2 separate regions of the Homo sapiens genome follow, and region 1 is linked to region 2. Evidence: fine-mapped expression QTL. Tissue or cell type: esophagus muscle. Region 2 holds a variant in brackets; the other region holds the start of a gene. All regions are shown on one strand. Distances are between the middles of the regions.

The links. PIP is the estimated chance that this variant, and not a neighbour inherited with it, causes the effect.
Region 1: CHROMR starts here. The variant in region 2 is fine-mapped to the expression of CHROMR in esophagus muscle (GTEx, PIP 0.97).

Annotation. Positions count from the first base shown.
Region 1 is chr2:178,411,398-178,416,933 of GRCh38, forward strand. CHROMR (cholesterol induced regulator of metabolism RNA) reads left to right here and starts at 2,262. Exons shown (of 5, transcript NR_110204.1): 1 at 2,262-2,716. RefSeq lists enhancers at 2,026-2,601, 2,431-2,630, 3,132-3,391, 3,179-3,753.
Region 2 is chr2:178,389,228-178,394,227 of GRCh38, forward strand. OSBPL6 (oxysterol binding protein like 6) reads left to right here. Exons shown (of 25, transcript NM_032523.4): 22 at 1,846-1,990; 23 at 3,185-3,311. Among named protein-coding and RNA genes, the nearest start is that of CHROMR, 22 kb to the right of the region's middle. The variant A/G (reference allele first, on the strand shown) is at 2,995.

The sequences.
Region 1 (5,536 bases), 22 kb after region 2:
TGTACTTGACACTACTGAACTGTGCACCTAAAAATAGGATGGTATTTTTTTTTTTTTTTTTCGAGATGGAGTCTCACTCTGTCGCCCAGGCTGGAGTGCAACGGAGTAATATCAGCTCACTGCAACCTCCGCCTCCCGGGTTCTAGCCATTCTCCTGCCTCAGCCTCCTGAGTAGCTGGGACTATAGGTGAGCACCACCATGCCCAGCTAATTTTTGTATTTTTAGTAGAGATGGGGTTTCACCATGTTGGTCAGGCTGGTCTCGAACTCCTGACCTCATGATCTGCCCCCACCTTGGCCTCCTAAATTGCTGGGATTACAGGCATGAGCCACCATGCCCAGCCTAGGATGGTAAATTTTATGTTATGTGTACTTTACCACAAGTAAAATTTTTAAATAAAAAAATGACATCTATATCCATGTTGTACCATTGTTAATTTCCTTGTTTTGATATTGCACTATATTTATGTAAGATGTAACCACTGAAGGACTTGGTGAAAGGTACAGGGACATCTCCATACTACCTTTGCAACTTCCCGTGAATCTTTAATTAGTTTAGAGCAAAAAGTGTTAATTTCATGTTTGTGTTAAAAAAAAAAAAAAGGAAGTTATAGACTGCCAATCTCTTGGACCAGGATAATAGAACTTTATGAACACAGAGATTAAAGCCTATTTAACCACAGTTTGCCCATGATGGTAACTTTGATCAGAAAGAATCTCACAAGCTGGGACCCAACAGGACCAAGTAATCCATGTCATGATTATTACACGTTATCAGCCTTCCAGGGAAGTGGAATTTACAAGCTTTCCCTTTGGCATGGGGCCCAGGTGATGGCCTCCTATTGAGCAGAGTCCCCAGCAATAATTACCCTGCATGTCAAAGGCCTCATTTCCCCAAAACAGTAAACCATAAAATGTAGCCCATATTCTCTCCATGTATATCACTCAATATCACACCGTAGAGGCATATAACTGATAATATTGCCTCTGGCCCATGCCAAATTGCAAGTGGTAGATTTTTTTTTTCCTTCCGAATTAAGAAACACAAGATTTACCCCTTTTCTTGGAAAAGTGTTAAGAGTCTAGCACCCCCAATAACTAGGGTCTACAAATGTCTAAAAGTTATTAATCTTGGTCTGTCTTAACTACCAATTCTCTTAATTTGGGTAACCTCAATTTTGTTGTTGTTTTTTTTTTTTTGAGACAGAGTCTCGCGCTGTCGCCCAGGCTGGAGTGCAGTGGCGCCATCTGGGCTCACTGCAATCCCCGCCTCCCGGGTTCAAGCAATTCTCCTGCCTCAGCCTCCCTAGTAGCTGGGATTACATGTGTGCACCATCACACCCAGCTAGTTTTTGTATTTTTATTAGAGACGGGGTTTCATCATGTTGGCCAGGCTGGTCTCGAACTCCTAACCTCAGGTGATCCACCTGCCTCTGCTTCCCAAAGTGCTGAGATTACAGGCGTGAGACACTGCACCTGGCCTGGGTGACCTCAAATTTTTAAATGAAGGGATTGGAGGTAACATCTAGGATTTTATCTAGTTCTGTCTTCTATGATTCAAACCCCAAATTCTCCACTGCAATGACTGCTTCTGGAATAAATATTCCTGGTTGCCTGTCTCTGAAAAAAAGCTCTCACATAAGGCTAATGAGAGGCGAAACTAAGGCAGGATCTCTCCTTTCAAGACCACATAGTCAGGGTTGTTTAATAAGCACACAAAGTAGAGACATATTTACCCATTCACCATGAAAAAACACCCCTATAAAAGGCCCAATACCTGGGCTTAATAGCTTCATTTCTTGTGTGATCTTGCAGTGTACATCAAAAAATTAACAAATAACATCCAGTGACATGATCTTGGCTCACTACAACCTCCGCCTCCCGGGTTCAAGCGATTCTCCTGTCTCAGCCTCCCTAGTAGCTGGGATTACAGGCATGCACCACCACACCCGGCTAATTTTGTATTTTTAGTGGAGATGGGGTTTCTTTCTCCATATTGGTCAGGATGGTCTCTCTCGAACTACCGACCTCAGGTGATCAGCCCGCCTTACGCCTCCCAAAGTGCTGGGATTACAGGCGTGAGCCACCGCCCCTGGCTCCCCCACCGGCAATTTCTAAAATGTATCGGTCTCCTCCCAAGCCCTTGTTCCTTCATCCCCCACCCGGGGCAGATTCAGACAAGCATTTATTTTAGTTCCTAAGCCGCGCGGTGCTCCCAGCTTCCGCGCCTCTGGGCGGCCCACACCCCTCCCCATCCTCTCCTCCGCGCCGCCGTCTTCGTTGCTCTTGGGTGGCCGCGGCGCCCGCTCCCTCTGAATTCGCCGGGCAGGGATACAGCCGCCCGGGGCCTCTTGCTCGTGCTTGGTTTTCCGGACCTTGCTTCCTAAAGGGTCTTTAGGGGTTCCCGGACTCCTCCGCCTGGGAGCCTCTATCCGCCTGGGAGCCTCTATGCGCCCCGCAAAGCCCCCGGCAGAGCCGAGGGGAGGCTTCATTGGCGACCTGGTGGGGCCTCGCGGCCCTGCTCCCTGACGTCAGCGCCGCCGCGGTGATTTAACAGCTTTTGTTTTGGGCAGAAGAACCTATGGGCACAAAAAGCAGGAACGAGTAGCGGTGGCTGAAGAACGAGCAGGAGCTTGAATTTCAGTTTTCTTATGAGGAATTTTCCAGAAAAGATATCTTCACTGTGAAATAACTAAATAAATGCCCACTCAGTACAGTAAGTATTGATATCGTCCTATAGCATTTGGCTAGAAAGTGGTGTCAATAGGGTTTTTCCTTCAGACTTTGCAATACTGTTCAGAAGGGCCAATGCCAATCCTTCTGTGAGGAAGTTTTTTTCTTCCTAAATATGTTAATTGCCTCAACTTGGACTAACGGTCACACTTGTGAATATGAGTGTAAGAAACAGTTTATTTCTCACATGTATGAAAAGGAAATTTTCTTTCATCTATCTCAGGCCCCTATTCAGCGTAAAATCAAGATTATTTAACTTGCAAGATTAAACAACGACCTTATTTCAAATGAAATAAAATTCAGTCTGATCAGAAACCCCTTGGAGCAGTTTATATTAACCTAATTATCTTTTTACTGCAGTAAGTTAATTGAGGATTATGGAATGCATCTAAAAAGCAGTTATATTTACAGGTCCCAAAATTAAATGCTAAGGAAAAGCATTTCTGCAAACCCAGGTAGTACGGACAAACCGAAGGGAGTTTTATTCTGTCAAGTTTTACTCTAAATTCAATCGTTGATCAGCTAGATCTCGGCTTGGTTATTCTTGGAGGAGCTGCCTTGCAAATGATTCCACTCTGAGCTCGCCGGCCACAGTAGCGTGAAATGGATGGCAGTCAGTTTCCTCTTCCTAAGACTGGGTGTGGTTTCTCTGGGCAGACTACACAGTGGCGACTCTGGCGGGATTTGAGGAGCCTGGAGAGGCCCACCACGTGTGTGTCTCCCCCTAGTGACCAACGGGCTGAAGTTCCTGTGGTTAAAGGCAATTGCTGATTTTGTCATTAGCAGGAAGGTGAAGCTCAACGACCTCCTGCGTGTACAGCACCATTCTAGAAGCTGGATGTGTTTAAAGATATGATGCAATATGTACCCAGAAGGCATAAGACTAGATCACTAGGGTACAAATTAAAATATCAAGTTGCATACGCTGAGTATGGGATTAGGTCAGCGGAACACGCTTTGGAAAACACTGCTTTAACGACCTCATTCTGAGTCCCTGTAATGCTTAAGATTATAGCACAGTTTAGGCACCTTATATACATTATGATGGAATGCTTTCCTAGAGTGATATTCTGTGGTGGAAAGAGCAAATCAAAGGTCTTTGTGTTCTCTGTGACCGTGGAAGAAATTGCCATTAAGTAGTAATATAAATAGGGGTTTTAAAAAACGTGGGAAAAGTCTGAAGAAGCATTTGCAGAAACTCCTTACAAAGTCAGTGACAGCTAGGCCAGGCCAAGGTGGGCGGATCACTTAAGGCCAGGAGTTTGAGACCAGCCTGGCCAACATGGCAAAACCCTGTCTCTACTAAAAATACAAAAATTAGCTGAGCGTGGGTGGCTGAGATGGGAGAATTGCTTGAACCCAGGAGGCAGAGGTTGCAGTGAGCTGAGATCGCACCACTGCACTCCAGTCTAGGCAACAGTGCAAGACTCTGTCTCCAAGAAAAAAAGGAAAAAAAGACATGTACTGTAAATGTAAAATATAAAATATAGGCTGGATTTCAGAGACATAGTATGTAAAAAAGAATGTAAAATATCTTAATAATTTTTATATTTATTACATGTTAAAATGATAATGTTTTTGACATATTAGGTTAAATAGAATATAATTCAATCAGTTTCTTTTCTCAAAGAGTGTGGCTACTAGAAATGTTTAAATTATGTATATGGTTTGCATTATATTTTTTCAGACAGTGCCGATGTAATAGTAACAAAAAGTCTCAGCCTCATTTAAGATAAAAGGCCATCATCAGACAATGCAGGACAGATTGTAACAATAGGAAGTACTACAGAGATTCAGAGAATGCCATAAATAACCTTGGAATCCTGTGCTTGGGTAAAACATTTGCTTTTTACTTAGCTGATCCCTTAAAGCCTGTTAAGTTGAAATGTTACAGAGGGAATTTTATATTAGAGTTGGCCACCTCAATTTCATAACTTTTTAAGGAGAAAATGGCTTACATTTGTGCATCTTCAAGGTTTTCAAAGCATTTGCACATTTATTATCTCATTTCATCTTTCTAACCTGAGAGGAAGGTAGAGCAGTTTATCCCCATTTTACTGGTAAGGAAACTGAGGCTCAAAGAGTTCATGTGATGTGAAGAATATTGGAATTAAGGATGCCAGAGAACAATGACTCAGAGTGACCAAGTCATTATGGGGTCCATTTGGAGGTCTCTATGTAGAGGGAGAGCTTCCTCAGGGACTCCTGCAGACATCTCCTTATTGGAGGACAGGAGGAAGCTTGAAGACACTTTTCCCCACTCGGACTCAGTACTGAGTACTTTTCCACTCTAAGTCCTTCACCTTCTCCTCATCCCAGGCCCTGGGTCCATAAAACTGCAGGAGCCTTTTGTTCAAGGGTTCTCTCAGCAAAGCTGTGCTGATCCACCTGACCCTGGATTGGTGCCATTCTATCACAGCATGGGATTAAAGCCTTGACCCTTCCTTTCATATTGGCTTATTGTCTTCACTGCTTTTCTGACTTCTGGCACCTCAACTCTCTGGAACTAAGCTCGGCCCTTGACAGTTAGACCTGCTGTCTCTTCCCACTCTGACTTCCCTCTTGTCTCCCATCCCAATACTCTTCCTTGCTCTGGCTAGGCACAACCCCCGACTTTAAAGTTTTGGAGTGATCACGGGCATTTCTGGGATTTGGCCAAGGGATAAATTGAGTTGAGACTACATTGAGTTTGGGTTTAATGGGATATATGTATGTGGTTTGTAGTCACATCCATGTATAGTTAAGTAATGGTCATACCACTACTGGAATGGTTTCTAGGAATACTCCTACTAGTGACTATGCG
Region 2 (5,000 bases):
TAAATAGCAGCAAGTGAATCTGTCCTGTATCATTGGTCCTTACGGACATTTTAGATAAGAAAGCAGAACAAACTGATAGAGTTTCTCAAGGCATGCAAGTTTCTGAACATATGGAGGTCAAAAAAGGCATCATCTAAAACAGAAAAAAAACACATGTCTTTTTAAAGAATTTTCTTTTGAAGTAGCCAGTCAGTTGTTCACTAAGTAAAATTCCAGAAAACACTTCTTGACTATAAATCTTCTGGTTTATATTTCTGTTTCTCTTCCTGCTTGATATGTGTTCAAGTGATCTGAATTTCGGGAACTCATTATAATGTTGTCATTTTCTGAAGACACTTGATGTAGTCATGTAGATGATCACCACCAGTCAGTACATGCTTATCCAACCCTGCCACTGTTATAATTCAAATAAGTTCAACAGGAAAAATTAGCCTCATTAACAAGAAAATATGTTGGGATAGAAACGCCCAAAAAGCACCATTTTCCCTCAGTTTCTCTGGTCTGAAGTGGAACATTCAGTATCACTGCCGTGTTTGTTTGGATGTGCTACAGAATTCAACATAGTATAGAAACCCCACCCAGCTACCATACCTGTTCAATTCATGATCCCATTCTAATATGGTAAACAGGTAACATATTGGAGTCTTAAGACTCTAATATTTTCTTTTCTCAGTTAAATCCTTTTAAGCCATATTGGAAGGTTGTATTTATTTTAATTGAGTGTCTTTATTTTAGCCCAAAATGTTTTCACTACCTTTTTTCTTAGAGACTCGTAAGGTACCTAGAACTGAAGAGCCAAGATCACTATGTGCTCTGGCTGGGTGATGATGTAAATATGTACATTTGGCTTTGTAGGCTATGAGAAGCTGCAGTGCAGTCCTGTCTCTAACACTTGCAGAGCCTGTATAATTAACTAAAATATGTAAATCAAGTCTGTAAGCTATAAAATAGAATATGCTCTATTTCTTTGCCTTGACAAATACACTTTTTATAACAAAGCCTGTGAGGCCAGGTTGGACCCTTCAGAACTCTGTGCTGTAACCCTGGCAATGTAGGACAGCCAGTCCTGGCCCACGGCCTTCCCTACTTTCTTCCCACCTCTGGCTCTGTTTTGACTGCAAGGGGCCTCATACACACATATACAGGCAGGCCAGCCCACACATCTAAGCTCTGTTCACACCCCCACAAACAACCACCCTTGGCCACTCTTCAGACCTAAAGGTGCACACGCTGGTGGGTGGTCTGCCCTTGGGTGCATGAATCCAAGGAAAAGGGCCTTGCCAGCTGTGGAATAACCTTGGAGCTACTTGGACAAGGAATTCTAGGGTCCTGTATACTTGGGGCCTGATCTGGAAGGGGAATCATGGGGTAGGCAAACTCCCATAGACTTCTTATCCCTTGGGAAGGAGTATGGCTGGAAGGGCCACTTGAGGGCCCTCCTCATAAAATTTGGCCATTTATAGATACTATGAAAATTATTTCACAAACAATTTCTGCAGCATGGCCAATTGAAATTTATTAAAATCCATGAGCAAGAGGAAAATTCAAAACAAGAGGAAAAAAAATTGCTAGCTTAGAAATTAATATTAGGTTCTTGGGATAGAAGCTGAGCCTTCTCTGTGATATACTACCATGTTATGCGTGGAATAGAGACCATCCCTTTCTTGAAAGTTAAGCTAACTCTTAGAAAGCCAGCCCTCCATATAAAACGTTTTGAGATTTCTGTATTTCTGAAAATGGTTTGAATAAGGGACTTCAAGGCTAAGAAATTTTTCTATATGGAAAATACAGGGAATGATGTTATTAAAGCCATCAAATGTCACAATTGGGGTTTGGTTTTTCCAGGTGAATTATTGGAATTCTAACATGAATGAAGTCCAGGGGGTGGTGATAGATCAGGAGGGGAAGGCGGTGTACCGGCTGTTTGGAAAGTGGCATGAAGGACTCTACTGTGGTGTGGCCCCCTCTGCAAAGTGCATTTGGAGACCAGGTGAGAGTGGCCTGAGTGTTCTGCCAACAGGAGGGCACTATGGACAACAGAAGGGAAGAGAACATCAGGTCATCTTATGCAACTCACATTATGTTTCCTTTAAGAGTGAGATTAAAAGCGTAGATGCTTATGGCAATTATAGTTACATTCATACTTAACATAGAAGTTATACATAAGCCCCAATATTTGATATTTCATAATAAAGAATGTAGGCCAAATCTCTGACAGGCAGTCAGAGATTGGGCTTCATGAAAAATTGCTCAAAGTGTAATGCCTACATTTGAAAAGCTAGGTATATTTATTAAAGACTTTAGATAATTGAAGTATACAAACTTAAAACCTTACTCATGTTATTTATTCTCTGCTTTAATAAAACAAAGACTACAAACATTTGTAATCCACAAATTCAATAACTCACCAGAATAAGTAATCTTTTCACTTGAGCCTCAAGAGACAGCAATATGTTGACATTTAATAAAAGACATCAAAAGAGTTCTGATAACACATTAGCTTATGATTGAATATCAAGTATAAATGGAACAAGTATCCACATGACATTTATTGTCACTGGAATTTTGTCAGTTAATCCCTAACTAAAATTAGTTGTTAGTTTCCTAAGAGACATCAATGAGTATTTAAATTTCCCGCTAGTAGAGTGGCTAGCTTATTCATTCCGCAACTATTTATTGAGTGCTGGCTGTACATCAGGCTTTATTCCAGGAGCTCGGGATACGTCAATGAGCAAGACATACAAAGATCCTGCCTTCAAGTTTAGTTAAAAAGTGGCAAAAAATATTAATTTAGGTCTGCATATTTTTCTTTTCTAAAAGGAAGCAAACAAGTGTTTCTGGTGTACTCTTAATGTTCATAGTTAATTGCCATAGTATTTAGTTAACCAATTGAATATTCAAGAGAAATATTATGGAGTAGTTTAGCTAATGAAGACTACTATATGTGCAGTTTTGTTTGAAAGACAGGATTGTATTAAATATATGAATCTGTCA[A/G]TTCTGATCATCAACACAAAGTTTCCTACCTAGGAATACCACCAATTTAATTCACTTGAAAAAATCTATAATCTTGTGTTTATGACTACAAATTTGGTGTTAGTGTAGGTACTAAGTACTAGGGTAAGTCAGCTTCTTCCAGTTCCATAAACCTTCTGCCTCTCACAGTGGTTCATTGGCCTCTTTCCAGGTTCCATGCCAACAAACTATGAGCTGTACTATGGCTTCACAAGGTTTGCTATTGAGCTCAATGAGTTAGATCCAGTACTAAAAGATCTCCTTCCACCAACAGACGCCCGGTTCCGGCCAGATCAAAGGTGAGGATGGCAGTGGTATTTAATATGCAGACTATGGCTGGGTGCAGTAGCTCATGCCTATAATCCCAGCACTTTAGAAGGCTGAGGAGGGAAGATCACTTGAGGTCAGGAATTCAAGACCAGCCTGGACAATATAGTGAGACTCTATATCTCTAAAAAAAAAGAATTAAAAATTAGCTGGGTGTGGTGGGGCATGCCTAAAGTCCCAGCTACTAGGGAGGCTGACGTGGGAGGATCGCTCGAGCCTAGGATGTTGAGGCCACAGTGAGCTATGATTGTACCATTGTACTCCAGCCAGGGCAACAGAGAGAGACCCTGGCAAAAAAAAAAAAAAAAGGCAGACTATTATGGCTTGGGGCTTTAGAGGTCATTGTGACTTATTTTTACTACCATCATGTATTTTTATTCAATCCTTTCTCCATTCCCTTATTCACTCAGCAATATTTGAGTTTTCTATGCCAGGAAAAGCAGTATTCATAGAATGATCATAACAGATTATCTCAGCACATAGTTCCCCACAGAAGATAAGATAACAGAGATATTTTTTAACAAAGTTTCTCCCTCCCCCTAAAATTTACCAAAGGTCTGTAAATTTGTGAACTCTTTCTTAAATATATAATCAGTCCTCACCCAGTGTTTCTGACCTTTTTACTTCTATAACTCTGTAACATGGAGTATCTTTTAAACTGAAGAATAATAGGATAAGTTACAGGGGAACTCAGAAATGCTTTGAGTGCAAGTCTGCAATTTGCCCAATGTGGTTTTGATCCCACAGAGTATGAGATATACTCAAAATACAGTACCTTTAATACCTTCTGATTCTTAGTTTTTTATTCTTATGTAGCTCTGAACTCATGATGTCCATTCCTATGGAATTCATTTTACTTTTCCCAAAAATTCTATATGCCATACAAATTCCACTCAAGATCAATTTTCTGTTTCCCATGTATTTGTGGCTTTATCTGCCATCTGCCAAAATGCTCTCAGTTTTGAATGTTCCACTATTTAATTCTCTTCTATTTTGCCCTCTCTCTCTAGAACATGTTGTCTTGCTATTTGACATTCAAATTTATTAATAAACTTCCTGTACAATGTATAGCATATTATATTCCTGTTCTTTGCTCTCATTTTGAAATGTAAGCATTTGTAAGTCACCATTCAGTCTGCTTTTTCCTTCTCAATTCTATTTCAGTGTTCCTTTTCTGAATTTCATTTACTATTCATTTCACATTCTGTGGCCTTTTGTAATTTTCCCCATTACCTTTTCTTTTCTCATCAGTTTTGCCCTCTCCAGTAAAACAGGAAAGCTCCTTCCCTCTCAGCCTGTTCTCAAAATAGACGGAGAATAGCCAGTTACCATCCTCCATTCTATGGCCTTTTAGCAAAAGCTTTCTGATAATATAGAAAAGGAACATGGCTATGACTTCACGCTCTTCTCACCCTGGACTCTGCAGTTGTCCTGAAAATCTCAAGTTATAGAACCCTAGACAGCATAGAAAAGTCTTCAAGGCCAAACCACCCACCTTTCACTGATATTGCTGATTATAATAATTCAGTTCATGTACATAGAAAATATGTAAATCCTGGGAGGCAGAGGTTGCAGTGAGCTGAGATCACACCACTGCACTCCAGCCTGGCGACAGAGCAAGACTCCGTCCGTTACTGTGCGGTATTTTATGTTCATAGCAA